2 separate regions of the Homo sapiens genome follow, and region 1 is linked to region 2. Evidence: fine-mapped expression QTL. A gene starts in region 2. The other region holds a variant in brackets. All regions are shown on one strand. Distances are from middle to middle.

The links.
Region 1: its variant is fine-mapped to the expression of TPST2 in whole blood (TOPMed, PIP above 0.99). The same link has a PIP of 0.9 or more in T cells, blood mononuclear cells, lung, monocytes and nasal epithelium.

Annotation. Positions count from the first base shown.
Region 1 is chr22:26,518,861-26,534,545 of GRCh38, reverse strand. It overlaps TPST2 (tyrosylprotein sulfotransferase 2), which reads left to right. Exons shown (of 7, transcript NM_003595.5): 5 at 1,801-1,851; 6 at 6,284-6,332; 7 at 8,279-12,550. The coding sequence ends at 6,325. Among named protein-coding and RNA genes, the nearest start is that of TFIP11-DT, 14 kb to the right of the region's middle. The variant T/C (reference allele first, on the strand shown) is at 8,787.
Region 2 is chr22:26,580,081-26,595,765 of GRCh38, reverse strand. It overlaps TPST2 (tyrosylprotein sulfotransferase 2), which reads left to right and starts at 5,634. Exons shown (of 7, transcript NM_003595.5): 1 at 5,634-5,713. It also overlaps a transcript of CRYBA4 not described here. RefSeq lists enhancers at 2,834-2,983, 5,280-5,419, 5,936-6,436, 14,157-15,074, 15,075-15,685 and silencers at 5,530-5,899, 5,910-6,089, 14,808-15,102.

The DNA.
Region 1 (15,685 bases), 61 kb after region 2:
TTCCTGGAGTAAAGCCTGACTTTATGTATTTTATAAAACACAAATAATTTTCATGAGCACTGGTGGTTAACATCAACTCTTTGGAGCTTTTTGTGTTTGTTTATTTAAAATGGAAGCTGTCTCTCATTTTCATCCAAAGAGATTTCTTCCCTGGGGCGGTCAACAAGTCTTGGCAAGTGCTAGATCCCTGGTTTAGTTTTTGCCATAGCTTGGCTGTTACTGCAAAGAAAAGTCCTCTCACTAAGCCCTGTGAGTTTGCATGCATGCCTGTGTGCTTCTGTGAGTGCTGTGGACCCTGTGTGTTCCAATAATGGATCCTGGGGCTCAGTAAACACAGTGGCTAAAAGGACATCTATGCTGATGAAATCGTCTCTGCCTGCAGTGTCCCATACGGTAGCCACTAGCCATGTGTGGCCCCTGATTCTGTAACAGGAGGCTAGTCCAAAGTGAGAGGTCCTGTTAGGTGTAAAATACACACTAGATTTTGAAGGCTTAGGACAAAAAAGTATGTAACGTTTCTTATTAGTCACTTTTATATAAATTACATATTGAAATGTTAATATTTTACATAGGCTGGACATGATGGCTCATGTCTATAATCCTAGCACTTTTGGAGGCCAAGGCAGGCAGACTGCTTAGCCTAGGAGTTTGAGACCAGCCTGGGTAACATGGTGAAACCTCATCTCTACTAAAAATATTGAATATTAGCCAGGCATGGTGGCACGTGCCTATAGTCCCAGCTACTCAGAAGGCTGAGGTGGGAGAATCACCTGAGGCTGGGAAGTGGAGGCTGCAGTGAGCCGTGATCGCACCACTGCACTCCAGCTTGGGCTATGGGAGTGAGACCATGTCTCAATAGAAAAAAAAAAAAATTAGCTATATCAGGTTAAATAAAAGATATTGTTAGAATTAATCTCCCTTGTTTCATTTTATTTTAAAATGTGACTACTAGCGGAAAGGCCTGAAATGTTGTGGTTCTAACTTCAGGGCCTTTGCTCTGTTGCCTCTGCCTGGAGTGCTTTTTCTTCTGAGCTTAGCCTACCTATTTTTCCTTGTCGTTTGGGTCTCAGCTCAAAGGTTATCTATTTCAAGAGGCCCTTTTTATTTTTATTTATTCACTTTCTTAGAGACAGGGTCTCGCTCTGTCACTCAGGCTAGAGTGGAGTGATGTGATCATACTTCACTGCAGCCTCAACCTCCCGGGCTCAACCAATCCTCCAGCTGAGGCTGGAGTAGCTCCAGAGCAGCTGGGACGATAAGTGCATGCCACCATGCCCAGCTAATTTTTAATTTTTTAGAAATGGGGTTTCAGTGTGTTTCCCAGGCTGATCTCAAACTGCTGGACTCAAGTGATCCTCCTGCCTTGGCCTCCAGAAGTGCTGAGATTACAGGCATGAGTCACTGCGCCTGGCCCAAGAGTCCCCTCTTGACCACCCACTCAAAAGAAGCCCCCTGGTTACTCCTAATCCCACCTCTTTACTGTACTTTTTTCACAACAGTTCCCATGGTTTGCTATGTCCTTGTTTATCTGTGTTTATTTTTCTTGTATGTTATCTGGTGCCCCCTCTAGAATGGTAGCTCCAGGGGAACAGGAATTTCCATTATCTGGTTAACATCATGTCAACCAGACACAATGCTTAGAATAATGCCTAGAAGAAGAGGAGCTTAAGCAATGTTTGTTGGATGGAGGGATGGGTGGGTGGCGAGGTGGATGGGTGGATGACTGGATGTGTTGGGAATGACTAAATTTTATTTTTTGGCCATTTTCATAATAGTGATATTTCTTTTTCTCTTCCTTAGGTCTTGAAAGGGGACTATAAAACACCAGCCAATCTGAAAGGATATTTTCAGGTTAGAAACCCCAAGGGGAATTCCGAATTCTGTCTTTCTCAGCTATACCACCATCTGGCTGTATGCCCTTAGATGTGTCACTTCTCCACTCTGGTTGATGGTTTTCCCATTATAAAAAGGGGGATGTGAGCTGGCTGCCTGTAATCCCAGCACTTTGGGAGGCCAAGGCAGGCAGATCACGAGGTCAGGAGTTCAAGACCAGCCTGACCAAAACGGTGAAACCCCGTCTCTACTAAAAATACAAAAATTATCCGGGCGTAGTGGCACACACCTGTAATCCCAGCTACTTGGGAGGCTGAGGCAGGAGAATCGCTTGACCCTGGGAGGCAGAGGTCGCAGTGAGCTGAGATCACGCCGTTGCACTGTAGCCCGAGCGACAGAGCGAGACTCCATCTCAAAAAATAAAAATAAAAAATAAAGGGCTGTGGGGATGCGTGCTGGACCAGAGGGTCTCTAAGCACTGATCCAGCTGGGGCCACATCTCAGTGGCCCTTCTGCCAGGAAGCAGCCTCTCACTTCGTCTTCCGGCTTGAATGCAGTTGGAGGGACTTCGTGGGGACTTTTTCTTGGGCTTTCTTTCTTGTTGAGACTGGAGTGCAGTGGTGTGATCATGGCTCACTGCAGCCTCAATCTCCTGGGCTCAAGCAATCCTCTCACCTCAGCCCCTCAAGAAGCTGAGACTACAGACACACACCATCATGCCCGGCTAATTTTTGTGTTTTTTGTAGAGACAGGGTTTTGGCATGTTGTCCAAGCTTGAGTTGTATTATTTATAATAAACAGGTAGCAGTTAGTAAAGTGTTTTCCCTAGTGTCTTGTGAGCTGTTCTAGTGAATTATCAAACCAGAGTGGGGGTTGTGGGAACCTCCAGATTTGAAGTTGGCTGGGAAGAAGTGTGGATAGCCTGCGCACCCCATTGCAGCTGGCATCTAAAGTGGGGCAGTCGTGGAACTGGGCCCTTAATCTGTGGCAGCTGATGCTAAGTAAGTCTGGGAGCTGGTGTCAGAACTGAACTGAATTGTTGAACACCCAGTTGGTATCCAGATAATCAGAGAATTGGTCACTGATATTGGAAAGCACCCATAAGCCAATATCTGAAGGATTAAAACTAGGTCTGCCACACAAAGATCTGGATAGAAAAGGCTTCCCGGCAGAGGGAACTGTAAACGCCTGAAAGTGGGGAGTGTGGCCGAAACCTCTGGAGTGCGTATGCACTTTTGCATTCGTTGCAATTATATTTTTCTTTGTTTCTACCCCAATGTGATTTACAGGAATGTTCATTGCAATTTTCATGTTCAAACTGCCTTGTTTTGCTTTCTTAATATTTTCCTATCTTTTGAGTTTCACCGGCACCATTTTGGATGGCTACGTAGTGTTCTGTGGAATGCATGTGCTACCATTTACTAAACAGCTTCTTCAAGACCATTTCCAGTTTTTACAACATCCAGAATGACATTATGTGCACAGTGGAGGACAGTAGGGAGATGAGGGTTGGAAATAGAGGCTTGACAAAACTTATCTGCAGGGCAGCCCTCCTGAGCGTGGGGGTATGCCATTCCTTCATATTTTGTTCCTAAAAGCAACAAAAACCAGTCCCAGGTCAGCTAGACATCTTGCATATGTCATACACGGCAGGAAGTATAAACTGGCCCAACCCTTTTGTTTTTGTTTTTGTTTTTGTTTTTGAGATGGAGTTTTCCTCTTGTTGCCCAGGCTGGAGTGCAATGCGGTGATCTCGGCTCACTGCGGCTTCTGCCTCCCAGGTTCAAGCAATTCTCCTGCCTCAGCCTCTCAAGTAGCTGGGATTACAGGCACCGGCCACCACGCCTGGCTAATTTTTGTATTTTTAGTAGAAAGGGGTTTCGCCATGTTGGCCAGGCTGGTCTCGAACTCCTGACCTCAAGTGATCCACCCACCTCGGCCTCCCAAAATGCTGGGATTACAGGCGTGAGCCACTGCTCCTGACCCCAACCCTTTTGTAAAACACTTTTAGCCTTGTTGTTCAAGAGTCTTCAAAAGATCTGAACCCTTCCACCTGCTCCTGCTGATTCCTTTTTTTTTTTGAGATGGGGTTTCACTGTGTCACCCAGGCTGGAGTGCAGTGGCGCCATCTCAGCCCACTGCAACCTCCACCTCCCGGGTTCAAGCATGATTCCATTTTTTAGAAGTGAATTCTAAGGGAATGATTCAGTAGAGCTTCAGTACCCAACAGAAGAGAGGCAGAATCAGGATGTGATGTCATTTAAAATACTGCAAAAATTGGAACCATTCTTAGGTAAGCAGTCAGTAAACGGTGGTACATGCACTCCACAGAATATCTGTAGCCATCCAAAATGGTGCTAGTGAAACCCAAATGATGAAAAAATAGTAAGAAAGCAAAACAAAGCAGCTCATACTATACAATTGCAACTAATGTAAAAATGCATATTCAGGTGGACAAAAAAAGGCAACACGCAGGAGTTGGGTGCAGTGGCATGCCTGCAGTCCCAGGTTCTCAGGAGGCTGAGGTGGGAGGATCGCTGGAGCCCCTGTCTCTTAAAAACAACAGCAGCAACAACAACAACAAAAACGAAGGCAACGTGCAAAAATGAGAAGTTTCAGTTTGTGGATAATTCTCCTCATCCCCACTGTGTTGTTCTGCCTACATCATCTTTTTGGTTAAAACAAATACTAAATTAGTGCTCACTAATTCTGGCTACTTTCTTGACGTCAGCAAAAGATAGATCTCTGATTCCCACAAAGGGAGTGGGACCTCTCCCCAAACAACCAGGAAATGCTCAAAAGCCATGGTCCCTAGCTCTCAGATCGCATTAATTTTTTTTTTTTAAATTCAAGGCCAACACAGTGAGACCCCATCTCCCTACAAAAAAGAGAAAGCCTTAGCTGGGTATGGCACATGTGGCACATGTTCGTGCCACTGCACTCTGGCCTGGGTGGCAGAGTGAGACCCTGTCTCATAAAAAAGAATACAACTCAGGTACAGTCAAATGCAAGAAGCGTAGGGTGAGGTATGGGGGATGGGTCACAGAACATCCATGCCCTTTCCCGGCATGACACCCTCCCAGCCTCTCAATGTGTTTACCAACCAGGAAGCTTTCCAAATTCTGTCATTTAGAGATTTCATCATAGAGGCATGACTGATTAAATCATGGGTCATGGGTGATTGCCCAATCTCCAGCTCCTAGCCCCTAGACCCTCTCCCCTCTCCCCTCCCAGGAGGTCAGGGAGGGGAGAAGGCAGGTGGGGCTTAAAGTTCCAACCTTCTGGCTGGGTGTGGTGGCTCATGCCTGTAATCCTAGCACTTTGGGAGGCTGAGGCAGGCAGATCACTTGAGGTCAGCAGTTCAAAACCAGCCGGGCCAACATGGTGAAACCCTGTCTCTACTAAAAATACAAAAAATATTAGCCATTCGTGGTGGCACACGTCTGTAGTCCCAGCTACTTGGAAGGCTGAGGCAGGAGAATTGCTTGAGCTCAGGACGCGGAGGTTGCAGTGAACCAAGATTGCACCACCGCACTCCATCCAGCCTGGGCAACACAGTGAGACTCCGTCTCAAACAACAAAAAAAGTTCCAACCCTCTAATCATGCCTTGGTCTTTCTGAGACCCCTTCCCCTAATCCTGAAGCTATCTAGGGACCCCCAGCCATTAGTCATGTCATTAGCATGCAAAAGATACGTTTTGTTTTTTTTTTGTTTTTGTTTTTGTTTTTTTGATACCTAGTCTCCCTCTGTCACCCAGGCTGGAGTGCAGTGGCATGATCTTGGCTCACTGCAACCTCTGCCTCCCGGGTTCAAGCGATTCTCCTGCCTCAGCCTCCTGAGTAGCTAGGATTACAGGTGCCCGCCACCACACCCGGCTAATTTTTGTATTTTAGTAGAGACAGAGTTTTGCCATGTTGGCCAGGCTGGTCTCAAACTCCTGACCTCAGGTGATCCACCCTCCTCGGCCTCCCAAAGCGCTGGGATTACAGCCATGAGCCATGGCGCCCGGCCAAGATACCCTTATTCCTTCAGAGATTCCAAGAGTTTGGGGAGCTATGTGCCAGGAACTGGGGACAATGAACAAATATTTATTATTATACCACAGCTGAAATGCCATCTTGTAGAGTCCTTTCCTGGCCACCGTTTTTGAAGTAGCACAGATACTGATCACTCATAGCAGCCTGTCATATTGCCCAAGTTTGACATTTTCTTGCATCTGTGCGTGTTCAGTAGGCTTTTTCTTCAACTCGAACGTAAGTTCCGTGATCCTAGGTTTGGGTCTGTCCCGCTCACCACGCTATCCCAGCACCTGGCACATAGTAGATGTACAGTAAATACTACGTGAATAAGCATGTGCATGACTCAGTGATGCTGAGGGGTGACCCTCAATACAGCAAGGCATCCCTCACCTGGCCGTGACCCCTTCTTCTGTGTATTGTCTTTCTCCAGGTGAACCAGAACAGCACCTCCTCCCACTTAGGAAGCTCGTGATTTCCAGGTAAGCCTGTGGACTTCACTGGGGGTTCCCGCTGCTTCTGGGTGGCCCCGGAGCCACTTTTCTGAAAAGCCACTTTTCTGTCCTTCCAGAGCCTCCCTGGGGTAGACATGTCCACTAGGGTGGGCTGACCCAGCCCCATCAGAGGTTTCCATGGTGACAGACTGGGGGTGCTATTTATAGAATCAAGGCTTAGTTTTCTAGCTCTGGATCAAGGACAGGGAGAGGGATTAACGCTGAACCAACCAGAAAAAGGTTTGTCTGACACTGGGGACAGGGCAGGAAGCACCACTATGATGGGGGAGGGGGAGATTCTGGAACCATTTTTGCACAGAATGCTGTCTGCCAGTCTGGCTTCTAAAAACAGCATCAGCGTTGGGCCAGAGCAATTAATGTTCTAATAACAGTCACAAGTCGTTCTGTTCTAAGAATAACCCCCATGGCCGTTGGGCCAGGTACTGGTCCTGTGTTACTCATTTAACCCTCAGCATCCTTGGGAGGCGGATGACATGATCATTCCATTTTACAGAAGAGAAAACCAAAGCACAGAGAAGGAAGGGCTTTGACTTGCCCAAGGCTACACAGCCACCAAGGGACAGAATTCCTCCCAGGTTTGCTTTTAGTGAATGATTTTAAGTGCACATTTATCCATCCATATTCTACTAAGGGGTGGGGAAAGGGATTTTTTTGAACTTGGTAATTCAAAGATTTAAGATCTCCAGGTTTAACTCCCTTCAGCCCCTGTTTTCTTCATCTGGAGAATGGGGATTCATCATTGCCCACCTCTGAGGTTGGCCATGAGATGGCGTGAGCTGGCCCAGGTGGGAGTGCTTGGAAACCGTGAAGTGCTGGGCCCTCGCTGTGGACTTGGGCACTGGAGTTAAGGCTGCATGAGTGAGCTCACTTCCTTCTGTCCCCCAGCCTCTATGATCAGGTTAAAGGAAACCTCAAGAGAGGTTATTTTACATGGAAACACCTTCCAGCTTGGACTCTTATTTTTAGTCTCTGTATCTATTTTTAAACAATCAGCATATGTTTTAGTTTTTCTTTCAATTTACTTTGCTCCAACCTGCAAGGACTCTGTCATTATTAGGGTTCCCATCTTGAGTTGCACTAAGATCCCAGAGTTTTTGTTTTTGAGACAGAGTCTCACCCTGTTCCCCAGGCTGGAGTGCAGTGGCACGATCTCAGCTCACAGCAATCTCCACCTTCTGGGGTTCAAGTGACTCTCGTGCCTCAGCCTTCCAAGTAGCTGGGGTTACAAGTGTGCGCTACCACACCCAGCTAATTTTTGTATTTTTAGTAGAGACGGGGTTTCACCATGTTGGCCAGGCTGGTCTCAAACTCCTGGCCTCAAGTGATCTGCCCACCTCAGCCTCCCAAAGTGCTGGGATTACAGGCATGAGCCACCACACCTACCCAAGATCCCATAGTTCTATTCCAAAGAAAAGAACCCTCTCATGAAAAACAGCTTTCCTCCCTGTTCCTCACTAACTGTTCCCTCGCTGCCTTTCTGCAGATCATTAGTAGAATCCTGGACCTTCTCATTGACAAAAGCAGATTTGTTACTTGTTTTACTGTTTAAATGAGATACCATATAGAGGTGCTTTAGCTGAATCCTGGGTACAGAGTTGGCCTTGAACAAACATGAGTCCTTCTCTTGCCTCCAAGAATTCATCAGTATTTATCACATAATCACTGTCATTTGCTCTGTGTCCATAAGAAAAGTGTATATTTGAGGTCAAGTGGATGCAAGATGAGATGTGGGGAAGAACCCAGGAAACGTTTTTAAATTTAAACTCTCTCTGGCCATCTGGGATGCATTCTTAAAACATTACATGCTTATGCGAATGGATGAAGACAGTATGTTCTGCAATCACATGTATAAATATAAATGATCTATTTCAGAATTGTTACTCTGAGCCTAACACAGTCTTCCCCACTTTCAGATCTCCGCAAATGACTTCATTGCCAAGAAGAGAAGAAAATGCATTTAAGTGGAAATCGGACCTCTAATCCAAGCATATTGCTTGCTATTAATCGCCAAAACAGGACTGCTGATGAGGAATGTATTTGCATATGTTTGCAAAAGCTGAATCATTGAAAACGTACCTTGAAACTCTCTATCTCTGGACACTCCAGGGTAGAGAATGAAGGGTATGGAAGTAGTCCGGCTTTTGAAACTTAGGTATTTTATATTTTTCCCCTCAAGAACTTTTTTTTAAGAGACAGATTTGCCATCCTCCTTAATTTGCAGGACTGCCTTGGTGGCTTTGTTTGCTGGGACAAGGCCCACAACCTGTGCCTCTCCTATTGACCCTTACTTTGAATTCAAAGAATCTATTTAAGAGTTTAATATATGAGGCTTTCTTTGATTCCTCCTCAGTTCTACCTAGTTTCACAGAGGAAAAAAATACTCTTTGAATAAAGTGAACAGAGGCTCATTTGTTTGTGCCT[T/C]ACTTTACTGAATGAATAGGGTTTTTTTTTTCTTTCCATACTGGATTTTGTCAGGTAGATTTGTGATGAGCAAAAAGCTGGAGAATATAGGTGCATGTAAGGCACAGCTGAATTCCTGTGTCAGGGTCCCCAGGGCCACCCCCAGGATCGATGATTGGCTAGAAGAACTCAGAATTCAGAAGAGCTATTATCCTTATGGTTATGGTTTATTACAGCAAAAGGATAAACATTAAAATCAGCAAAAGAGGCCGGGTGGAGTGGCTCACGCCTGTAATCCCAGCACTTTGGGAGGCCAAGGCAGGCAGATCGCCTGAGGTCAGGAGTTCGAGACCAGCCTGGCCAACATGGTGAAACCCCGTCTCTACTAAAAATACAAAAATTACCTGGGCGTGGTGGTGTGCACCTGTAATCCCAGCTACTCAGGAGGCTTGAACCTGGGAGGCGGAGGTTGCAGTGAGCGGAGATCGTGCCATTATACTCCAGCCTGGGTGACAGAGCAAGACTCCATCTCAAAATAAAATCAACAAAAGAAAAAGGTGCATAGGGCAGAGTCCGGGAGAGACCGGCCTCAAGCTTCCAGTTGTCATCTCCTGGTAGAGTCTTACAGACACACTTAATTTTCCCAGCAATGATATGTGACAACACGTACTAAATATTACCAGCCAGAAAGCTCACCCTAGCCTTGGGGTCTAGGTTTTTATTGCATGTCAGTCACATAGGGCAATCACATGACCGACTTTAGTTACTTAATCACCAGCTGCTCCAGAGGTCAAAATGATACAGCATGGCCCAAGGTCCCCACCATAAATCACATTATTAGCACAAACTATCTGGCCTGGTATGGCCCAAGGCCTGAGGTATACAAAGACACCCCTACTTGGGAGGATATTCCAAGGACTTAGAGGTTATCTCCCAGGAGCCCATTAAGGCCAGTTTTTTCTTTGAGATGTGCTGGGTTTGGACACTTCAAGCCTGCTGAGTTAACCCTTATAGCACAGTCCCCAAATGCTGAGGGACCAACTGGGCCTACAATAAGTTTGTATCTTTAAGGGTTAAGGTGTTTTACCCATACCTCCTTGCCTTATATCTCATGATAATATGAGGCTTTTGGAAGGCAGTGACTTATTGTGGCTTGGGGCATGGGTTTTTGGAGTCAGGCTGACCTACTGGCTGTATGGCTTGAGACTTTGTCTCTTCATCTGTAAAATGGGGAAGTTAAAACTTCATGGTGTGTATGTGTGTATGTGTGTGTTTAGACAGAATCTCGCTCTGTCACTCAGGCTAGAGTACAGTGGCGTGATCATAGCTCACTGCAGCCTCGGTCTCCTAGGGTCAGGTGATCCTCCCATCTTAGCCTCCTGAGTAGCTGGGCATGTGCCACCACACCTGGCTACTTTTTAAATTTTTTTTTTTCTGTAGAGACGAGGTCTTTCTATGCTGTTCAGGCTGAACTTCATGGGTTTATTGGGGATGGCTAATGGATGACATTGGCGGTGGTCCTTGATACCAGATAAGCCCTCAGTGTGAAGCAGCTCTTATTTTTCCTTGTCTTGAGATTGCTCTGGAATGGAAATTAGGCTTTTTTGAAGGTGTGACCCTTTTTGTTCATTTCTTCAGCAGTTACTTTTTATTTTTTAAATGTTTGACACACAGTCTCTGATAAATGATCATTCACCAATCACCGATTACTCTCCTTGCTCTGTTAAGTGTGACACTGTCCCTTTGAGAATCTGGCGACAGCTATGTATCCCATCACCACACACCCCAAAAAAAAAATTTATGTCTGGTTCCAGGAGTTACCTTTTATGAGAAGTCCATCTGTGAAGACCCTGGATGTTCAGAGAACTTCCTGGGAAAACACTGAAAGAAAATAAAGAGGCCGGGCCCGGTGGCTCATGCTTGTAATCCCAGCACTTTGGGAGGCTGAGGTGGGCAGATAAGCTGAGGTCAGGAGTTCCAGACCAGCCTGGCCAACGTGGCGAAACCCCATCTACTAAAAATACAAAAATTAGCTGGGCGTCGTGGCGCATGCCTGTAGTTGCAGCTACTTGGGAGGCTGAGGCAGGAGAATTGCTTGAACCCAGGAGGCAGAGGTTGCAGTGAACCAAGATCATGCTAGTACACTCCAGCCTGGGCAACAGAGTGAGACTCCATCTCAAAAATAAAATAAATAAAACAAAATAAAATAAATACAATTTCTGTTTCTAGCCCCTAAGTGGTAGCACTGGGTCTTGTTCCCTGAAAAAAACTAGGCTCAGAATCCACTCTCATTTCATCTCCCCTGATTTGATCTGAAAAGATTTTGTTTAGAGTACTACATGAATATATTATAAAACATGGGACAATCAGAATTGATAGTAAGAAGGCAAGTGGCTCTATTTGTACTTCCTCTCAATAGCTCCTAAAGGTAATGCTACCATTTTCTGTTTGTACATAGTCTTCCAGACTTTAAATTTTTGAACATATAAATATTATCATCTTAAAGACGTATGGAAAAAACCATTTTGAATAGGTTATTCCAAAATGTAATTTAACAGATTGCTCTGGAGGATTGTTTGTTTGTTTGTTTTGGAGACAGAGTCCCGCTTGGTTGCTCAGGCTGCAGTGCAGTGGCACAAACACAGCTCACTGCAACCTCTAACTCCTGCAAACACAGCTCACTGCAACCTCTAACTCCTGCAAACACAGCTCACTGCAACCTCTAACTCCTGCAAACACAGCTCACTGCAACCTCTAACTCCTGCAAACACAGCTCACTGCAACCTCTAACTCCTGGGCTCAAGCAGTCCTTTCACCTCAGCCTCCTGAGTAGCTGGACCATGACACCTACCTAACTTTTTATTTTTTGTAAAGAGGGGAATCACTATGTTGCCCAGGCTGGTCTCAAACTCCTGGGCTCAAGCAATCCTTCCTCAGCCTCTCAAAGAGTTGGGTTTACAGGCGTGAGCCACCGCACCTGGCTCCTGGAGCATTTCTGATGTGAACATGTGCTGATCTAACACCACTCCTTTTACCAGCTGCCTGTTCTAGAGCAAACCATCTTTTTTGAGCATTCCACTTTGGCTAGGCCCTTAGGCTGTTAGCAGTTTTCATCGCTACTGGCAAAGCTGCAGTGGACGTTCTCCTGCACATATAACCTCTTGATGCCACTGTATGAGTGAGTCTCTGCAAAATGAGAAGTAGAATTGCTGGGGTGAAAGGCATACATACTAACTTTTTTGATTAATTCCACCCATGTACCCTGATTTGGGCAGAATTTTAATCTCACTGTGAAATCAGAGCTTTGTTCTAGAGCCTTTCTTGGGGGTTCCATGGATCAGTGGGTCAGCCGTCACTTGTGCCCTGGCCCATCCTCTGTCCAGCTTGGGCAGCATGCATCATTCATTCTGATTCCTTAATTTGCCATATGTGAAAACATGGTAATCTATACATTACTTGGGTGCTATTATTATATATAACTAGCTTTGGAGTCAGAATTAGCGTCTCATCCTGGCTCTACCACTTTCCAACTGTGCGACTGTGGCCAAGTGACTCCCCTTCTCTGAGCCTCAGTTTTCCTCTTCTGTAAAATGGGGGTAAAGGGATAAGAACTATAGGGGGATCTCAGGGGATGGTTAAGAGAAATCCATGAGATAAGCAAACACATTATCTAGTTTAGTAAAGCTAAGCAATGAAGACTTAACAGCCCCATGGTGAAGGCTTAATACATGGTAGCTATAATGATTACTATTAATATTGTGAAATAAAAGGTTGTGATGAACCAACCATATCTTCTCATCAGGATGTATGTTTGTCCAACTGATAGCCATTTGTAGTCATGATCTGGGGTTGGAGAAGGGTCTTCTGCACATGTGCCAGATGGACTGAATATAGATCTTCACTCTCGTTAGCAGCCACCAACCTGGTTGAGCCATCAGGGCCTCCAAAGGGCTTGGCAATTTTTCATTGAAAACAAAAAACAAAAACAAAAAAACTCTTAAACTATGTCTACCCAAAGAATAAATCCTCTACCCTTCCAGGGTAAGGGATGGACAGCTGATGGAATTACAGACCCAGGAAGCTCATGGTTGCCAGTCATTGGGTAGCAGAGGACATCCAGTCTCATTCATTGTTCCACTCATCTCTTGCGGCCCAACCAAGCAGCCCCAAACTGAGTGACTTAAAACAACTTGTTTTTTTGTTTGTTTGTATGTTTTTTTGAGAGCGTTTCACTCTTGTCGCCCAGGCTGGAGTGCAATGGTGTGATCTTGGCTCACTGCAACCTCCGCCTCCTGGGTTCAAGCAATTCTCCTGCCTCAGCCTCCAGAGTAGCTGGGATTACAGGCACCCGCCACCACACCTGGCTAATTTTTGTATTTTTAGTAAAGATGGGGTTTCATCATGTTGGCCAGGCTGGTCTCGAACTCCTGACCTCAGGTGATTCACCTGCCTTGGCCTCCCAAAGTGCTGGCATTACATGCGTGAGCCACCGCGCCTGGCCACAACTTGTTAAATCTCTCAGTTCTAGCCAGGTGCAGTGGCTAGAACTGTAATCCCAGTGGCCTGTAATCCCAGTAAGTTGGGAGGCCAAGGCAGGAGGATCACTTGAGCCCAGAAATTCAAGACCAGCCTGCGCAACATGGTGAAACCCTGGTCTCTAGAAAAAAAAGAAAAAAAAAAAAAGGCACGGTGGCTTGTGCCTGTAGTCCCAGCTACTGGGGAGGCTGAGGTAGAATCACTTGAGCCTTGGAAGTGGAGGTTGCAGTGAGCTGTGATTACACCACTGCAGTCCAGCCCGGGGGACAGAGTGAAACCCTGTCTGAAAAAAAAAAAAAAAAAAAAACCGCTCAGTTTTGGGAATTAACTAGAGTGAGCTGGTGGTTCTCTAGTCAGATGGCAGCTGAAGATTTCTTCATTCATTTGTCTGGTACCTCGGCTGGGATGGTTGGAGCATCTAGAGGCTTAGTGGGGTACCTCTTATGCATGTAGTCTCTCCGCATGGCTAGACTGGGCTTCTTCAGGACGTGGCCATCTCAGGGTGGTTAAACTTCATACATGGTGTTGGCTTCCCCCTGAACAAATGTCACAAGAGTCCAGGAGTTCGAGACCAGCCTGGGCAAAATAATGAGACCTTGTCTCTACAAAAAGTTTAAAAAATTAGCTCGAGCTGGGTGTGGTGGCTCATGCCTATAATCCCAGCACTTTGGGAGGCTGAGGCGGGCGGATCACCTGAGGTCAGGAGTTTGAGATCAGCCTGGCCAACATGGTAAAAACCCGTCTCTACTAAAAATACAAAAAAAAAAAAAAAATTAGCGGGAAGCTGGGTGTGGTGGCTCACACCTGTAATCGCAGCACTTTGGGAGACCAAGGCGGGTGGATCATCTTGAGGTCAGGAGTTCAGGACCAGCCTGGCCAACATGGTGAAATCTCCTCTCTACTAAAAATACAAAAAAATTAGCTGGGTGGTAGTGGCGCACGCCTGTAATCCCAGCTACTCAGGAGGCTGAGACAGGAGAATCGCTTGAGCCTGGGAGGCAGAGGTTGTGGTGGTGAGCCAAGATTGAGGCATTGCACTCCAATCTGGGTGACAGAGTGAGACCCTGTCTCAAAAGAAAACAAAACAAAAAAATTAGCCGGGCGTGGTGGCTCACGCCTGTATCCCAGCTATTCAGGAGGCTGAGGCAGGAGAATCACTTGAGCCTGAGAGGCAAAGGTTGCAGTGAGCCGAGATGGTGCCACTGCTCTCCGGCCTGGGCGACAGAGTGAGACTCCGTCTCAAAAAAATATATTAGCTGGGCATGGTGGCAAGCACCTGTAGTCCCAGCTACTTGGGTGGCTGAGGTGGGAGGACCACTTAAGCCCAGCAGGACAAGGCTGCAGTGAGCCTTGACTGTGCCACTGCCTGCACTCCAGCCTGGGTTGACAGAGCGAGACCCTGTCTCAAAAAACAAAAAACAAACCACAACAACAACAGAAAACCCATCAACAATTGGCCACAGTTATCCTTAAAAAACAATTGATCAGCCTCAATTGTGGGTCAGCAAATGGCTTTCAGATCTCTGGGATACACCAATGTCACCAGAATATTCCCTTTCTTCATTTTGGGGTAGAAAATGAAAACATTTCTTTCGTCTACTATTTAAATTAAGAGGCTAGGTCACCAAAAAACCCAGGCTTCTTTGAGGGTTTCCCCAGCCTGTTCCTTGGGACCAGAGACAACTGGTCCTACCAATGGAAGTGTTCCAGGCCTCTCCGGACCCCACATCTGGGCCCAGAACCAGAAAGACACCTCTTACCCCTGTCCTCAAAGTTGGCCTCATTCTGTGTTCTAAACCCACACTGCTCAGGATAATTAACAATAAGCATTCCATTCCTGCTGGGCATGGTGGCTCACACCTGTAATGCCAGCACTTTGGGAGACCTAGGTGGGCGGATCACCTGAGGTAGGGAGTTCAAGAACAGCCTGACCAACATGGAGAAACCCCATCTCTGCTAAAAACACAAAATTAGCTGGCCATGGTGGCCCATGCCTGTAATCCCAGCTACTCGGGAGGCTGAGGCAGGAGAATGGCTTGAACCCGGGAAGTGGAGGTTGCAGTGAGCCGAGATTGTACCATTGCACTCCAGCCTGGGCAACGAGAGCGAAACTCCATCTCAAAAAAAAAAAGAATTCTTTTTCTTCAGACAGAATCCCTGGCTCCACCACATCAGGCCCTCCTCCAGTCCTTTCATGAATTTGGATTTTTTTTTTTTTTTTTTTTTTTGATACTGAGTCTTGCTCTATCATGGCTGGAGTGCGGTGGCGAGATCTCGGGTCACTGCAACCGCCGCCTCCTGGATTCAAGCAACTTACCAGTCTCAGCCCCCCAAGGAGCTGGGACTACAGGCACATGCCACGACGCCCAGTTAATTTTTGTATT
Region 2 (15,685 bases):
GGTGGCTCACGCCTGCAATCCCAGCACTTTGGGAGGCTGAGGTGGGAGGATCACTTGAGCCCAGGAGTTTGAGACCAGCCTGGGCAACACAGGGAGACCCCATCTCTACAAAAAATTAAAAACAAAACACAGAGTCCAGGTCTTCTGGATCACTTTCATCTCACAGGCATTTTTTTTTTTTTTTTTGAGACGGAGTTTTGCTCTTGTTGTCCAGGCTGGAGTGCAATGGCCCGATCTTGGCTCACTGCAACCTCCGCCTCCCAGGTTCAAGCGATTTTCCTGCCTCAGCCTCCCGAGTAGCTGGGATTATAGGCATGCGCCACCATGCCTGGCTAATTTTTTGTATTTTTAGTAGAGACGGGGGTTTTTCCATGTTGGTCAGGCTGGTCTCGAACTCCCAACCTTACTTGATCCTCCTGCCTCGGCCTCCCAAAGTGCTGGGATTACAGGCGTAAGCCACTGCGCCTGGCCTCACAGGCATTTTAAAATGTGCATATTAGCATCACTGAAACAAGATATGTACACTTGGCAGAATAAACACCAGAAGAAAATAACAATTAAAGTCATTTTATATTTAATGTATTGTTTGCTAATGAATTTATGAATAAACAAAATGCCTTGTAATAACAAAGGAGGACATATAAAATTATAAGCAAAAAATAAAGAATAGAGACTAAAAGAAGCAAGTTAAAGAAAATAACATGTAGTAAGGCTGAGAGTGAGTGTGACTTAGGAACCATAAACCTGGTGTTCCTTCCATGGGTCCTAGTTTCAACATATCTCTCAAAACATGAGCATCTCACCACCTGGAGCAGAATTTCAGAGCTTAAAGATAAGCCACACTTTTGCCTTCAAACTAAAACTAAGGTTTCATTTCATCAGGTGCTCAACCCCAGAAATCATGATGAGTCCAAGTTTAATATTGACGGAAACCAGTGAAGCTGGACTTCCAAGGGGCTATGTTGCCTTCAGCCTTTTCGGGGGCTTCTCCAAGGCAATTTTGACTGCATGGGTTTGGCTCTAAATGCTGGCTTTTTGTTTGTTTGTTTTGGTTTTTGTTTTTTGTTTTTTGTTTTAGCTAGAGTCTCACTCTATCGCCCAGGCTGGAGTGCAGTGGCGCAATCTCAGCCCACCACAACCTCCACCTCCCGGGTTCAAGCAGGAGTGTCCCTAAGCACTGGCTTTAAAATACAATGCCTGAGGAAACTGGGGACTTCATATTGTTTCAAAGCTAGATAGATCCCAGCTTGTGAATCTTTGAGTCTCAGGCCTTTGGAAAGGCAAAGCATCTTGATTATGAGAGAGCGGCTCTCATTCTCATCGACAAGAGGCAACCCGTAATCTTTTAGACATTGGAGCATAAGCCCAACGCCGGCAGTGTGTATATGTGGGGTGGAGGCAGGAGGATCACCCAGAGGCATTGAATGCTTTTGTGCCAGCATGAGATGCTGATAAATACACAGCAACTGGGCTCTGGGGAAAAGACATGGTTCCAGGGTGCCCTGCAGAGGTTCTAAAGAGATGAGCCTTCTTAGAGCCAAACTGCCACGACAGCCAATAGCCTGGGTCAGATACTTAGGATCAACGAATGCTTTGTGAAGCCTGGATCCCCAGCTAGGAACAATAATACTACACCCTTCCAGCAGGAGAAGAAAACCTGCCCACTTACTTTTACTTCCTGCCCACTGCCGAGCCACTGCCTTCTATCAGTGTACTAGAAAGGGTGAGAGAGACCTGAGTTTGCATTCCAGCTCTGACAATTACCAGCTATTATCCTTGGCCAAATCAAATTACCTGCTGGAGCCTCTGTTTCCACATCTGTAAAATGGGAGTAATGATAATAAAACACCAAAAGCTTGGAGAGGGTAAATGATCAGCTTGAATATAATAATTATAAGGTGTTTAGCACATAGCAAGCACCTGAATAAAGTGTTTTCTGTGGTTGGGCATGGTGGCTCACACTTGTAATCCCAGCACTTTGGGAGTCCAAGACAGGTGGATCACTTGAGGTCAGGAGTTGGAGACGAGCCTGGCCAACATGAAGAAATCCCATCTCTACTCCAAATACAAAAATTAGCCAGGCATATTGGCGCATGCTTGTAATCCCAGATACTCAATAGGCTGAAGCAGGAGGACTGCTTGGACCCAGGAGGCGGAGGTTGCAGTGAGCCGAGATCACACCACTGTACTCCAGCCTGGGCAACAGAGTGAGACTCTGTCTCAAAGAAATAAATAAATAAAATAAAAATAAATAAAATGGTTTTTAAAAAAATTTTAATTAAAAAAAAAAAGTAGAGACAAGGTCTCACCATGTTGCCCAGGCTGGTCTCAATCTCCTGGGTTCAAGCTATCCTCCCTCTTCAGCCTCCCACAGTGCTGGAATTACAGGAGTGAGCCATTGAGCCTGGCCTAAAGTGTAATTATTGACATAACATCAACCTCATCCTCTTGAATGTCAGAGCTGGAAAGAATTTTTGGATCAATGTGTATTATGCTACATCTATTCTTCCTGCTTTTGATAAATATTCTTCCTGCTTTTGATAAAACCTCTTAAGTACTGGGTTTTGCCTAGATGCTGGGAAGATAGGTTGGGGAGGAAGACAGAAGAGGTATCTGCTCTAGGTGTTCCCGGCTGAAGATGCAGACAGGAGGAATGAATTATTTTGTCTGCCTTCAAAGTCACATCAAATTCCTGGGCTGCACAGTCTGGTGTCTGGTCCACCACGATGTCCTGAGGGGCAATTAGCCTTCCTCAAGGAGGTGACAGACAGATTGAGACCTGGAAAGGTTCACTGAGCTAGGGGTACTGAGAGAAGTCCCAACCTAGACAACAAGACGATCATTCTGATCCTCCTCCTTAGCCTCTCAACTGAGATCTGCCAATTCTGTCTTCCAAACCTCTCCGGAACCAAAACACCCCCTCCATGCCCACATCCCCTCTCTGGGTTCCTGAATTATTTCAACACCCTCCAAACCAGTTTCTGCCTGTTTCTTCTTCACACAGCACCAGAGGGATCTTTGCAGAAAGTCAGGCTCCCCATGCCCTTCCCCTGTTGAACACCTTCCCTGTCTCTCCATCACTGCAAGAGAAAAGCCCCGACTCCTTCCCACAGCCCACAAAGCTCTGCAGCATCCAGCCCTGCAGACACCTCTGATCTCTTCTCTCACCTCCACCACATCCTGTCCACTCTGCACTTCATGCAAGGCCCCAGGCTCGCTTCCTTCCTGCTAGGCCTTTGCACCTGCTAGATTCTGTGACCAGTGCACTCTTCCAAGGATCCCCACCCATGCCTCTGGCATGTATACACACGCCTGGCCCTCCCTCCCTGGACCAGGTTAATCTCTGCTGCTCCTGCCTCATCAGTTACAGGTGCTCACTTTACTGTGAAGGCTTGTTGAAGGATCTAGCTTCCCCAACTTGGACCTTTGTCCCCCTGTTAGCTGCTGAATCTGTGCCTAGCATAGAGAGCTCAGGAAATGCCATTGCTAGAATGTTATTAAACAAATGCCCCCATTCACACCTCTTCCTCTGAACTCCATTTTTTTCATCCACAAAAGGACATTATAAAACACCCTGCTGGTGTTTAATCTATGTGTCTATCAAATCAGTCATATGAAGTCTCTAACATGCACGCAATAAACACTATGTAATGTTGTTGTATTGTTTCCAGACCAGTAATGGCTGGCTCCATGGAGGCAGCTTTATCAGTCCCAGCATTTTCCATAAGGCAAGCACTAACTATTTATTGGACACATGAATGAATTAATGAATGACCAATGAATGAACATGTGGCTGGCCATGGGCAAATTACTTAATATCTGTGTGCCCTAGTTTCTGTGTGTGTGTGTGTGTGTGTGTGTGTGTGTGTGTGTGTACTCACCCAGGATGGAGTGCAGTGGTGCGATCTACACTCACTGTAACCTCTGCCTCCTGGGTTCAAGCAATTCTCGTGCCTCAGCCTCCCAAGTAGGGGGAATTACAGGTGAGCAGCACCATGCCCTGCTCATTTTTTTTTTTTTTTTTTGAGACGGAGTCTCACTCTGTCGCCCAGGTGGGAGTGCAGTGGTGCGATCTTGGCTCACTGCAACCTCCACCTCCTGGGTTCAAGCGATTCTTCTGCCTCAGCCTCCTGAGTAGCTGGGACTACAGGCATGCACCACCATGCCCAGCTAATTTTTGTATTTTTAGTAGAAACAGGGTTTCACCATATTGGTCAGGCTGGTCTTGGATTCCTGACCTGGTGATCCACCCGCATCGGCCTCCCAAAGTGCTGGGATTGCATTTTTTTTTTTTTTTTTGAGACAGAGTCTCACTTGTTGCCCAGGCTGGAGTGCAGTGCAATCTCAGCTCACTGCAACCCTTGCCTCCCAGGTTCAAGCGATTCTCCTGTCTCAGCCTCCTGAGTAGCTGGGACTACAGGCATGTACCACCACACCCGGCTAATTTTTGTATTTTTAGTAGAGACAGGGTTTCGCCATGTTGGCCTGGCTGGTCTCGAACTCCTGACCTCATGTGATCCACCCACCTTGGCCTCCCAAAGTCATTTTCGTATTTTTATTAGAAACGAGGTTTCACCATTTTGGCCAGGCTGGTCTTGAACTCCTAGCCTCAAGTGATCCGCCCGCCTCGCCTCCCAAAGTGCTAGAATCACAGGTGTGAGCCATGCACCTGACCCAGAAATTTATTTTAAACAGATAATATATACATATGGCAAATAGAAAGTTAAAAGAGAACAAAGAACCAAAGTTCACAATGAAAAGTAAGCCTGCATGCCTACCCTACCTTTTCTTCAGGTATTCAATGCACAAGCATACGATGCATAGATAGCTCTATTATTTTTCCAATTTTACACATGAAGAAGCAGAAGCACTGAAAGGTTATAGAACTTAGACTGTGCTAAGATTTATCAGTCAGGAGTTTTGTTTCATTTGTGTATATCAGGGCTTCACAACCTTTACGCTATTCGGCATTTTTTGCAGGGTTTTTTTTGGGGGGGTAGTGGCAGGGCTGGGGGTGGAAAGGGTGTCCTATGCACCGCAGAATGTTTAGCAGCATTCCAGGCCTCTACTCACTAGATGCCAGTATCGCCTCTCCACTTCCCCAGTTATGACAACCAAAAATGTCTTCAGAGATTGCCAAATGTCGTGGTGGTGGAGGGATGTCAGGGCAAAATCCCTGATAAATGGAGAGAATGTGGTATATCCACAAAAACTCCCTCCAAAACCACTGGTGTGTATGACTATACATCAGACCACCCCTTTCTTTTTTCTGTGTTTTACACAAACAGTAGCACGAATACACCCCGCTGCGGGTCTACTTTTCTTTTCTTACACCACTTTTTGGTGATCATTCCACTTCATTGCTTACAGGCAGAAAGGAACTTCTCTTAAACAGAACTGACCGGGAGAAGTGGTGAGCTGCCCGTCCTAGGGGTAAGCCAGCGAGCAGACAGGGGCTTCCAGGGCGGCGGGGCGGGGTTCCCGGGGCGAGCCTCCGGGAAACTTCCCGACCAGCCTCTGCTCACCTCGCGGTCCCGAGGCGCAGTGGAGGGGATGGGGCGGGGCGGGGCGGGGCCGCGTATCGGGCCCGCCCCCGTACGTCACGTCGCCGCGGCCCCGCCCCCGCGCGGGCACCTCCCCCTTCCCCGGCTGGGGCGGCTGGAGAGCCGGGAGTCGCTGGGTGCGTGGGGCTGCCTCGCCGCGTCTCGCCACGGTAGGTGGCCCTGGGGCGGCAGGGGGTGGCCTCGGGTTGCAACCGGGGGCGCGGGCTGGGGGCCGTGCGGGTCGGCCTCGGGCGCCTGGCAGCCCTCCGTCCTGGCGGCTGCCTCCGGGCCCGGCGCGACTGCTCGGGCTCCGGGGCTGGGAGCTGGGATCTGGGAGGCAGGCAGGCGGCGCGGGCGCGCGGTTCTGGGATCCGCACCCGCTCGGCGTCCCGAGCGCTTTCCGCGGGGTGCGGCATCCACCGGGCCCCCGTTACCACGCTTCCCGCTTCGGACCCAGCGCCTGGGAGACGCTCAGCGTCTGTTGGCGGGGGGACTGGGGGGGAGGGCGGCGCGTCCCCGCCTCCGGAGTCCCCAACCTCGCCCAGGCGCGCGGGGACCCCCAGGCGGGCGCCAGGGCGCGTGGAAGTTAACTTGCAGCAGCCGTGGAGTTGCGAGGAGCGTCAGAAGTGGAGGCGTTGGGGGCGGAAATCGTCGGCTGGGGAGGTGGGCGCTGGGAGCACTGGGTTGGGGAGCCCTAGTGAACTTGGAGGTCACTGGTGAGGAGTGGAGAGGAATTTGACCCGAGGATCCCACCCCAACCCCCAACCTCCCTCCGTAAACTCCGCTTCTCGGTGTGAGCTGGATGGGAGGTGCCCGGAAAGCCGGGACTGGGACTGGTAGCAGGGGACTGGGAGCATGGGCTCAGAGGCTGAGCACGCCTGACCTGGCAGAGTCGTTGTTAGATGGGACAGAGGTCGAGGTCTGGCATTCCCACTCAAAGGCCCGTTCCCTAGGGAAGGAACCATCCACCTCAGCAGAGTCATTAGAAAGAACCGTGCCTAACCTCTTGCCCCCTTCCCCTTTTACAGATGGGGAGACTGAGGCTTGGAGAGGTCACCTGCCCGTGACCCTAGGATTCACAGCTAGGATGTGGCAGAGCTGAAACTCACTCACAGGCCTCCTGACTTAATGTCCTTGGGGATGTTGAGGAGGCGGGCTGTTGAACTCCTACTTATCCTACAGAAGCCCCCTCAAGCAGCACCTCCTCCGGGAAGCCTTCCCTGGCATTCTCCTGGTATTGTTGGGTGCTTCCTGTTTTGAACCCCACAGAGTTAGCCAGCCCTTTTTCTCACTTCCCAACAGACATTCCCTTGCATGTCTGTCTGCCAGACTGGGCTGTGGGTGGACACCTCTCCCTAGCCTCCATGTGATAACCCTTTCATCTCAGCAGGGTGGTCTGCTGGCGAGGGTAGGCTTCTGGATTTGAACAGATCTGTGACACACCGGATTTAGTAGTGATGTGGCCCGGGCGACGCATTTTCCTTCCGATCTAGTCTCAGTTTCCATAACTGTAAAGCTGGGTTTATTTCATTGTCCTAAAGGAACTGTTGGGTCATTTCTGAATCCCCCCACCCCACTGAACCCCAATTGTACTGTTGTTTACTTAATATACATCTTTGTATCACCTGATTTTTAAAAATCTCATGCAAACTTTTTTTATAACAGCTTTGTTGAGATACAGTTCACATGCCGTACAATTCACCCTTTTAAAGTATATGTTTCCGTAATTTTTAGGATGTTCAGAGTTGCATAGTCATCACCACTGTCTAATTTTAGAACATTTTTATCATGCCCAAAAGAAAGGCTGTTTCATGGTCACTCCCCAATCCTTTCTTCCCCTATCCCTTGGCAACCACTTACTGACTCTCAAATTCTCTATGAATTTGCCTGTGCTGGACATTTCATATAAATGCAGTCATATACTATGTGGCCTTTGGTATCTGATGCTTTTCACTTCAGAGAATGTTTCTAAGGTTCAGCCCCTTGCAGCCTGTATCAGTACTTCATTCCTTTTTTTTTTTTTAAGTACTTCGTTCCTTTTTATGGCTGCATAATATTCTATTATGTGGATATACCACATTCTATCCATTTGTCAGCTGATGGATGTTTGGGTTGTTTCTAACTTTTGACTATTATGAATAATACTGCTATGAACATTCATGTACAGGTCTTTGGACATACATTTTCAGTTCTCTCAGGTATATTTCTAGGAGTGGAATGATTGGGTCGTAAGGTAACTTTAGGTTTCACCTTTAAATATTTTTTTAATTTATTTTATTATTTATTTATTTTGTAGAGATAGGGGTCCCACTATGTTGCCCAGGCTGGTCTTGAACTCCTGGTCTCAAGCGATCCTCCTACCTCAGGCTCCCAAAGTGCTGGGATTATAGGTGTGAGCCACTGCACCCAGGTTTAACCTGTTGAGGACCTGCCAGACTATTTTTCCAGAACAGCTGTACCATTTTATATTCCTACCACCAGTGTATGAGGGTTCCAATAATCTTAAATACATTTAGTGTTCTCTGAAGCAGTCATAACCCTTGAAATCACTGGCTTTGATGTGTTAGTTGTAAACTATTTTCAGGCCGGGCACGGAGGCTCACACCTGTAATCCCAGCACTTTGGGAGCTAAGGTGGGCAGGTCACCTGAGGTCAGGAGTTCGAGACCAGCCTATCCAATATGGTGAAACCCCGTCTCTACTAAAAATACAAAAATTAGCCAGGTGTGGTGGTGCGTGCCTGTAACCCCAGCTACTTGGGAGGCTGAGGCAGGGGAATCGCTTGAACCCAGGAGGCAGAGGTTGCAGTAAGCCAAGATCAATCACACCACTGCACTCCGGTCTAAGTGACAGAGCAAGACTCTGTGAAAATACCGAAGCAAGGAGAGGCAGTGTAGGACCCAGTGGCTTACAGAGCCCACCCCAGGAGCTGGCACACAGTATTAGGAGGGGGTGAAAGGAAGGTGGAAGCTGCTCGGATCTTCCCATCCCGGGCCAGCCTGGAGCCCCCTTGCCAGCTGAGGCTTTGTGGAGGCCAGGGAGACCCTCCATGGCTCTCCTAGACCATAACTGAAGGGGAAGACTTGTCCCTTGACCCCAAAATTAAGTCTGGTCCTGCCCACACCCTATCTGGAACCCCCCACGCTACTCTGAAGGTGACTTCTCTGGGTGGCCACCGGAGTGTCCTATGTGAGTTGCTGCTTATTTCAAGAGGGGCCACCCCCCAGGCCTGAGATGAGCAGTCCTGAGTTACAGACGCTTCATCTGTGAACATTCTGCACACACAGACATCTTCCCCCTCCTCTCAGCACCTTCCCCACCCCTAGGACCCTGTGTTTCTTCCTTCACACTCTTTGCTTCAGCAAGAGGCTGCACCGGAAGAACTCAGGTCAGAACCCAGCGTTTTCACAGAGGAAGAGTTCCTTGAGAAGGTAGGTAGTTCACCCCAGCTTGAACCTGTACTCTGCTGGTTCAGGAACTTAGACCAGCACTTATCTGCGTGTTCCAGTTTCCTGACAACTTGGTTCATCTGGGCAGCTGCTGTTTGGGAATGGTGTTAAGACCACGCCTCCCAGCCGCTGTATCTGGCACCTCGTGACTTTATTCTTTTTTGCATACTTGCCTTTCCTTGTCCTTTTAAAATCCTGAGTTCCTGTGCATTAAGAAAGCAGCCTAGGCCGGGTGCATGGCTCATGCTTGTAATCCCAGCACTTTTGGAGGCTGAGGTGGATGGATTGGTTGAACCTAGGAGTTTGAGACCAGCCTGAATAACATAGTGAAACTCCATCTCTACAAAAAATACAAAAATTAGCCAGGCGTGGTGGTGCGCGCCTGTATTCCCAGATAGCCGGGAGGCTGAGGTGGAAGGATCGCTTGAGTAGAGGTTGCAGAGAGCTGAGATTGCACCACTGCACTCCAGCCTGGGCAACAGGGCGAGATTGTAGGGTATTAGGTCAGTACATAAAAATCAATTAAATATTAAAAAAAGAAAGAAAGAAAGCAGCCTAGGGACATGGAGACGGGGTGGGAAGGCTCCCTAGGCAAGGAACTGCCGCTCTCTGGGTGTCAGTGTACCCTACTGAGGAATGGGCATAGACCATTCAGAACTAAGATGTGGTGGTGCCTTGGGATCGGTTAGGCTGTTGAAATGTATTATTATGATTATTATTATTATTATTTTTGAGACGGAGTTTCGCTGTGTTGTCCAGGCTGGAGTGCAGTGGCGTGATCTCGGCTCACTCCAAGCTCTACCTCCCGGGTTCACGCCATTCTCCTGCCTCAGCCTCCCGAGTAGCTGGAACTACAGGCATATGCCTGACTAATTTTTTTGTATTTTTAGTGGAGACAGGGTTTCCCCGTGTTAGCCAGGATGGTCTCGATCTCCTGACCTTGTGATCCGCCCGCCTCGGCCTCTCAAAGTGCTAGGATTACAGGTGTGAGCCACCACGCCTGGCCTGAAATGTATTATTGATGTGACTTTGTGGGTGTATTTGTAGTAAGAGTGGCAGATCAGATGTAGCTTCACAGCCTGGGGTTGGTGACCAGAATGTACTTTCTTGGAAAAATGCATGTGGCTTGTGTGGCTTTGATGCCCCACGTGGCACCAGGGAAGCTTCTCTGGGTAGCAGCAGCTCCTGCTCCCCGACTTGCTGCCTATTCCGATTGCTTGCAAGTCCCCGTGCCCTCTGAGGACCTGCATGTACCCGGTCTGGGGCCCCTCCAGAGATCTGGGATGACTGTCCCCTCCCGTCACTTCTCAGGTCTCCCCCACCCTTTACTGCAGCCAGAGGAGGATTTGTGGGAATGATTCATTCAGAGCTGCTTGAGATCTTGGCCAGCCCCCAGAAATTGCAGGGAAGGACCTCAGAGGCAGTGCCCACAGGCCCTAGGGAACGTCTGGGGCTGATGGCCCAGGGAGAAACTTCTTATCCTATGTGCTCAGATGGCGGGCAGCCAGCCCGTCTGCCGAGTGACTTTGTATCAGTAAGACTTTTGACTGGGGCTTCTGCAGCCAGAAAGCAGGCAGGCAGCCCAGAAAGCAGGCAGTGTGATAGGGAGCTAGGGGGCACTGGCCTGTATTAGAATCCAGGTGCTCCACATCTTTCTGGGGCTGTTGGCTGTTTCTCTATGCTTTGGTTTTCTCATCTGTTGAATGCAGGTATAAGTAGGACCTATCTTCCAGGGGTGCTGGATGGAAGGGAATGGTGGTAAAGCACTTATCTTGGTACCAGGCAAAAGCTGAGGCCCTGGGGTTAAACAGGCTCTTTGGAATTTTGAACATGTTCGTTTGTGAACCTTAGTTCCTCCGTCTGTCAAAAGGCAACAATTATAAATACAGCCAATATCAACAGGGCTTACTGGGTGCCAGACACTGTTCTAGGCACTGTATGTGGTTTAACTCATTTAATTCCCCCAACAGCCATATGATGTGAACAGGCTGAGGCTCAGAGAGGTGAAGTAATTTGCACAAGGTCACCCAGCTAGGAAGTGGGAGACATAGGATTTGGATCCAGAATCTTTCTTTTTTTTTTGTTTTGGGTTTTTTTGTTTGTTTGTTTTGAGACAGGGTCTTGCTCTGTTGCCTAGGCTGGAGTGCTGTGGCACAATCATAGCTCACTATAACCTTGAACTTCTGGGCTCAAGCGATCATCCCACCTTGGCCTCTCAAGTGCTGGGGTTACAGGCGTGAGCCACCACACCCAGCCCAGACTCTACACTCTGAATTCTCATTCTTACTCCTCCTTGATATCCCATCTTAAGGCCTAGCACATAGAAAACACACAGAAAACATCAGGTGTTGTTATAACTATTCTGAATAAATATTGATCCGCTCTCCATCCCTCTGTCCACACTCCTTCCCTGATGATCAGAACATGCAGGGCTCTTGGCCTGTAAAGTCCAGATTCCCACCCACTCCTCCCTACTCGCTCTGTTCCTCCCACTCCCACACTCTCATGCACAGCAGAGCTTGGAAGCAGCCAAGTCCCAACTCTTCCTCCAAATTGCTGTGTGACATTGGGCAAGGAGCTTCCCCTCTCTGAGCCCCAGTTTCCGTACATGTTAAATGGGTGAGTTCACCCTGCTGCATGTTTTTTGTTGAGCTCCCATGCTACGTGTGTGTTTTTAAAATTGAGTCAACATTCAAACATTTCTAGAGAAAAATTCTGATTTCTCATTTCTCTTGGAAACCCAGGAGCTTAGGCCAAACTGGAGTGGCCTGAAGCTGCCCCTTAGGTGGCCTGGACTCTCCCAGTCACTGTGGTTCCCCCTACTCCCCATTGTCACGTAAGTGCGGCTTTTCAGGGGATCTGAGGATGCCTTAGGCCTGCCTCGTGCCACCTGAATAAGCAGTTCCATTGCTTTAAAAACAATTTTTTTTTTTTGAGACGAAGTCTCGCTCTTGTCGCCCAGGCTGGAGTGCAATGGCATGATCTTGGTTCCTTGCAACCTCCGTCTCCTGGGTTCAAGCTATTCTTCTGCCTCAGCCTCCCAAGTAGCTGGGATTACAGTCGCATGCCACCACGCCCAGCTAATTTTTGTATTTTTAGTAGAGACAGGGTTTCACCATATTGGCCAGGCTGGTCTCGAACTCCGCCTGCCTTGGCCTCCCAAAGTGCTGGGATTACAGGTGTGAGCCATCGCGCATGGCACAATTTTTTTTTTTTTTTGACACGCTCCAAGAGCCCTTCCAGCTCTGTGTTTCTAGGATATTGGAGGTTGTCTGAGGCCTCCTGATACCCTGTCTGCCATTTTAAGCCCTCAAGGCATTTTTTTTTTTTTTTTTTTTGAGATGGAGTTTCCTTCTGTCGCCCAGGCTGGAGTGCAGTGGTATGATCTTGGCTCACTGCAACCCCTGCCTCCTCGGTTCAAGTGATTCTCCTGCCTCAGCCTCCTGAGTAGCTGGGATTACAGGTGCCTACTACCATGCCCAGCTAATTTTTGTATTTTTTTGGTAGAGACGGGGTTTCACCCTGTTGGCCAGGCTGGTCTTGAACTCCTCACCTCAAGTGATCTGCCCGTGTCAGCCTCCCAAAGTACTGGGATTACAGGTGTGAGCCACTGTGCCTGGCCTTTTATTTGTTTTGTTCTTTTTTTTTTTTTTTTTCCTTTTTGAGATGGAGTCTCGCTCTGTTGCCCAAGCTAGAGTGCAGTGGTGTGATCTCGGCTCACTGCAACCTCTGCCTCCCAGGCTCAAGCGATCCTCCCACCTCAGCCTCCCAGAGTGCTGGGACTGGAGGTTGTCCCCATTGCATACTCCCTGTGTGGGGAGTTCCTGTCTCTGGGCGCTAGGGTGCCGTGCCACCTTACCTGGTACAGGCCCCTACCTAACTGTTGTTCCCCACAGTGAGATATTTGTTATTGACCACGCCATTTCCCAGAAGCCAAGGCTTGGAAATAGTCACTTTCCCGAGGTCACACAGGCCTGAGATTCAGCACCAGGACTCAAAGCCCATCTGCCCAACTTCAGAGGCTGTCAGTGGAAGTCATGCCTTGATCCCAGCACTGCACGGATAGCCACTGAGTGACGTCTTCCACTAGAATAAGGACACATGAGAACCCTCAACTGGATGTTGGGGTGCAAGATTTAAGAAGCAACGAGGTCCTAGTTGTCCTGGAGTTTACGTTCTGGTGGAGGCATCAGGCAAGAAAAAGTAACCCACATCTCTGACGTGAGATGTCAGCCTATGAAGTTGAGTACCCAGGCCTCTCAGATCTTAACATGCATATGATCCCCTTGGGGAACTTGTTAAAGTGCAGATTCTGTGTTTTTGGTTGTTTTTGTTTTTGTTTCTGTTTAGATGGAGTTTCGATCTTGTTGCCCAGGCTGGAGTGCAATGGTACAACCTCGGCTCACTGCAACCTCTGCCTCCCGGGTTCAAGCGATTCTCCTGCCCCAGCCTCCCAAGTAGCTGGGATTACAGACACCTGCCACCATGCCCGGCTAATTTTTGTATTTTTAGTGGAGACGGGATTTCACTGTGTTGGCCAGCCTGGTCTCAAACTCCTGACCTCAAGTGATCTGCCTGCCTCCACCTCCCAAAATGCTGGGATTACAGGCGTGAGCCACAGCGCCCGGCTAAAGTGCACATTCTGATTAGCAGGTTTGGGGCAGAGACTAAGACTGTGTTTCTAACCAGTTTCCAGGGGCCTCTGATGGTGTTTGTCTAAAGACCACATTTGGAATAGTGAGGGTCTGGATCAGAAATTGGCAGATTACCACTCATAGGCCACATCCGGCCCGCTACCTGTATTTGTAAATAAAGTTTTATCGGAACACAGCTATGCTTATTTATTGACATTTTGTCTGTGGCTGCTGTTGTGTAACAAAAGCAGAGTGGAGTAGTTGTGATAGAGACCAGAGAGCCCACATTGCTGGCCTTTGAAGAGAAAGTCTGCCAGTTGCTTTTCTAATCATCTTTTGAGTCCCTACAAGTTATAAAACTTTGATTTGGTGAGTGTTAGATGCTGATAAAAATAGTAATGATTGCAGTTAAGACTTGGGTGCTTTCTGGGTACTTAGCTCTTTACGTTTATTTTTCTTAGCTCAATTCTATCATAGGCAATACTACTGTCTCCACTTTACAGGCGAGAAAACTGAATAGAGGCTGGGCCATTGGCCCAGAGTTTGTGGACCAATGAGTAGGTGAGGCCAATTTGAGTCAAGTTGACTGATTCTTATTGGACAGGAGCTTCTGCCTAGAACTTTTTCCCAGAGCACAGAGAGGGTTTAGTTTAGATTTCCTTCTGTCCCAGAGTGTTCTGGTGCCTTCATTTCTTTCTCAATCCATCCTTCTGTTTACTCAACAAATACCTGTGCACCCTGTGCTGGAAGTTTGGGGACCATGCTGGGTTCTGAGAGGATGTGGGGACTAGGATGGGGTCCCAGCCCTGCACATTCCATGGGGTTGGCAGGGAAGCAACACCAGAAGCCACACAGGATGCTAAGCACCTTGGGGGATACTGGTACAGGGACAGGAGGCAGTCAGGGAAGACTTCCTGGAGGAAGGGGTGCAAATGATGCCAGTAGGAGTTAGCTTTGTAGAGGAGGTCAGGAAAGGTTTTCCAAGGAGAGAGAATCACAAGTGCAAAAGTTTGGAGGTGTGAGACTCTGTGGCCTGGTATGTTTGGTAGAGTTCAGGGCACAAAGACTATAGTGTGTGTGTGTGTGCGTGTGTGTGTGTGTGTGTGTGTGTGTGTGTGTGTATGTATGTTGAGGGTTGGGGGAATCGGTGGTGTTATAATAAAATTGGAGGTCAGCAGGAGTTAAGTCACAACAGAGCCTCAGTGCGATGCCAAAGGACTTGAATTTTGCCCTGGAGGCTGCTGTTGCCTAGTATGAAGTGCTAAATCACAGAGCGAAAGTCTTCCTCCCCACCCTCTGATGACTTTCCGGAGAAAGCCTCCATTAGGTGCTAACGCGTCTTTAGTGCTTCTCCCCAGACTCCTCTTGTTTAACAAAGATCGGACACAACCGGCTCCTTTGGGGATCCTTCCTTAGGCTGGCGGCCGTCTCTAGCCAGAAGGCATAAAAAAACATTGCTTCCTTCGATTTTATTTTTGCATTAATTTTTTAATTAGGGCATGTTTTAAATTTAATCCAGTGGATTATAGTTTCCCTTGAAAATATGTTTTAAAAATATTGGATCCATTGAACAAAAATGAATACGATTAAAGGGGGTTCTGGATGTAATTAACATTGGGAAGGTAGTGTTCAGAAGCTTGGAATTTGGAGAGCCCCACAACAGGTGAGAGGGCTGGAGGGGGCTGGGCCAGTAGTCACCTCTCTCTCAACATTCCCCTTCTTCCCTGGATACCCAGGGGCCTTGACTGAAGGGCGGGATGGCTGTGTAGCTAAGATGTGGGTGCAGGGATGTAGGTGCCCGTTGATGGTGTAGGAGCTGAGGTTCCTGTTCCAGGCTGCTGCTAGTGCTCATCTCTCTCCTTCTCTGTCTGGTGATTTTCTTATTCTTCTTTTCTTTCTTTCTTTTTTTGAGATGGTCTTGCTCTGTTGCCCAAGCTGGAGTGCAGGGGCAGCATTGCAGCCTTGAACTCCTGGGCTCAAGCAATTCTCCTGCCTCAGCCTCTCGAGTAGCTGGGACTACAGGTACAGACCACCACACCTGGTTCATTTTTTATTTTTTG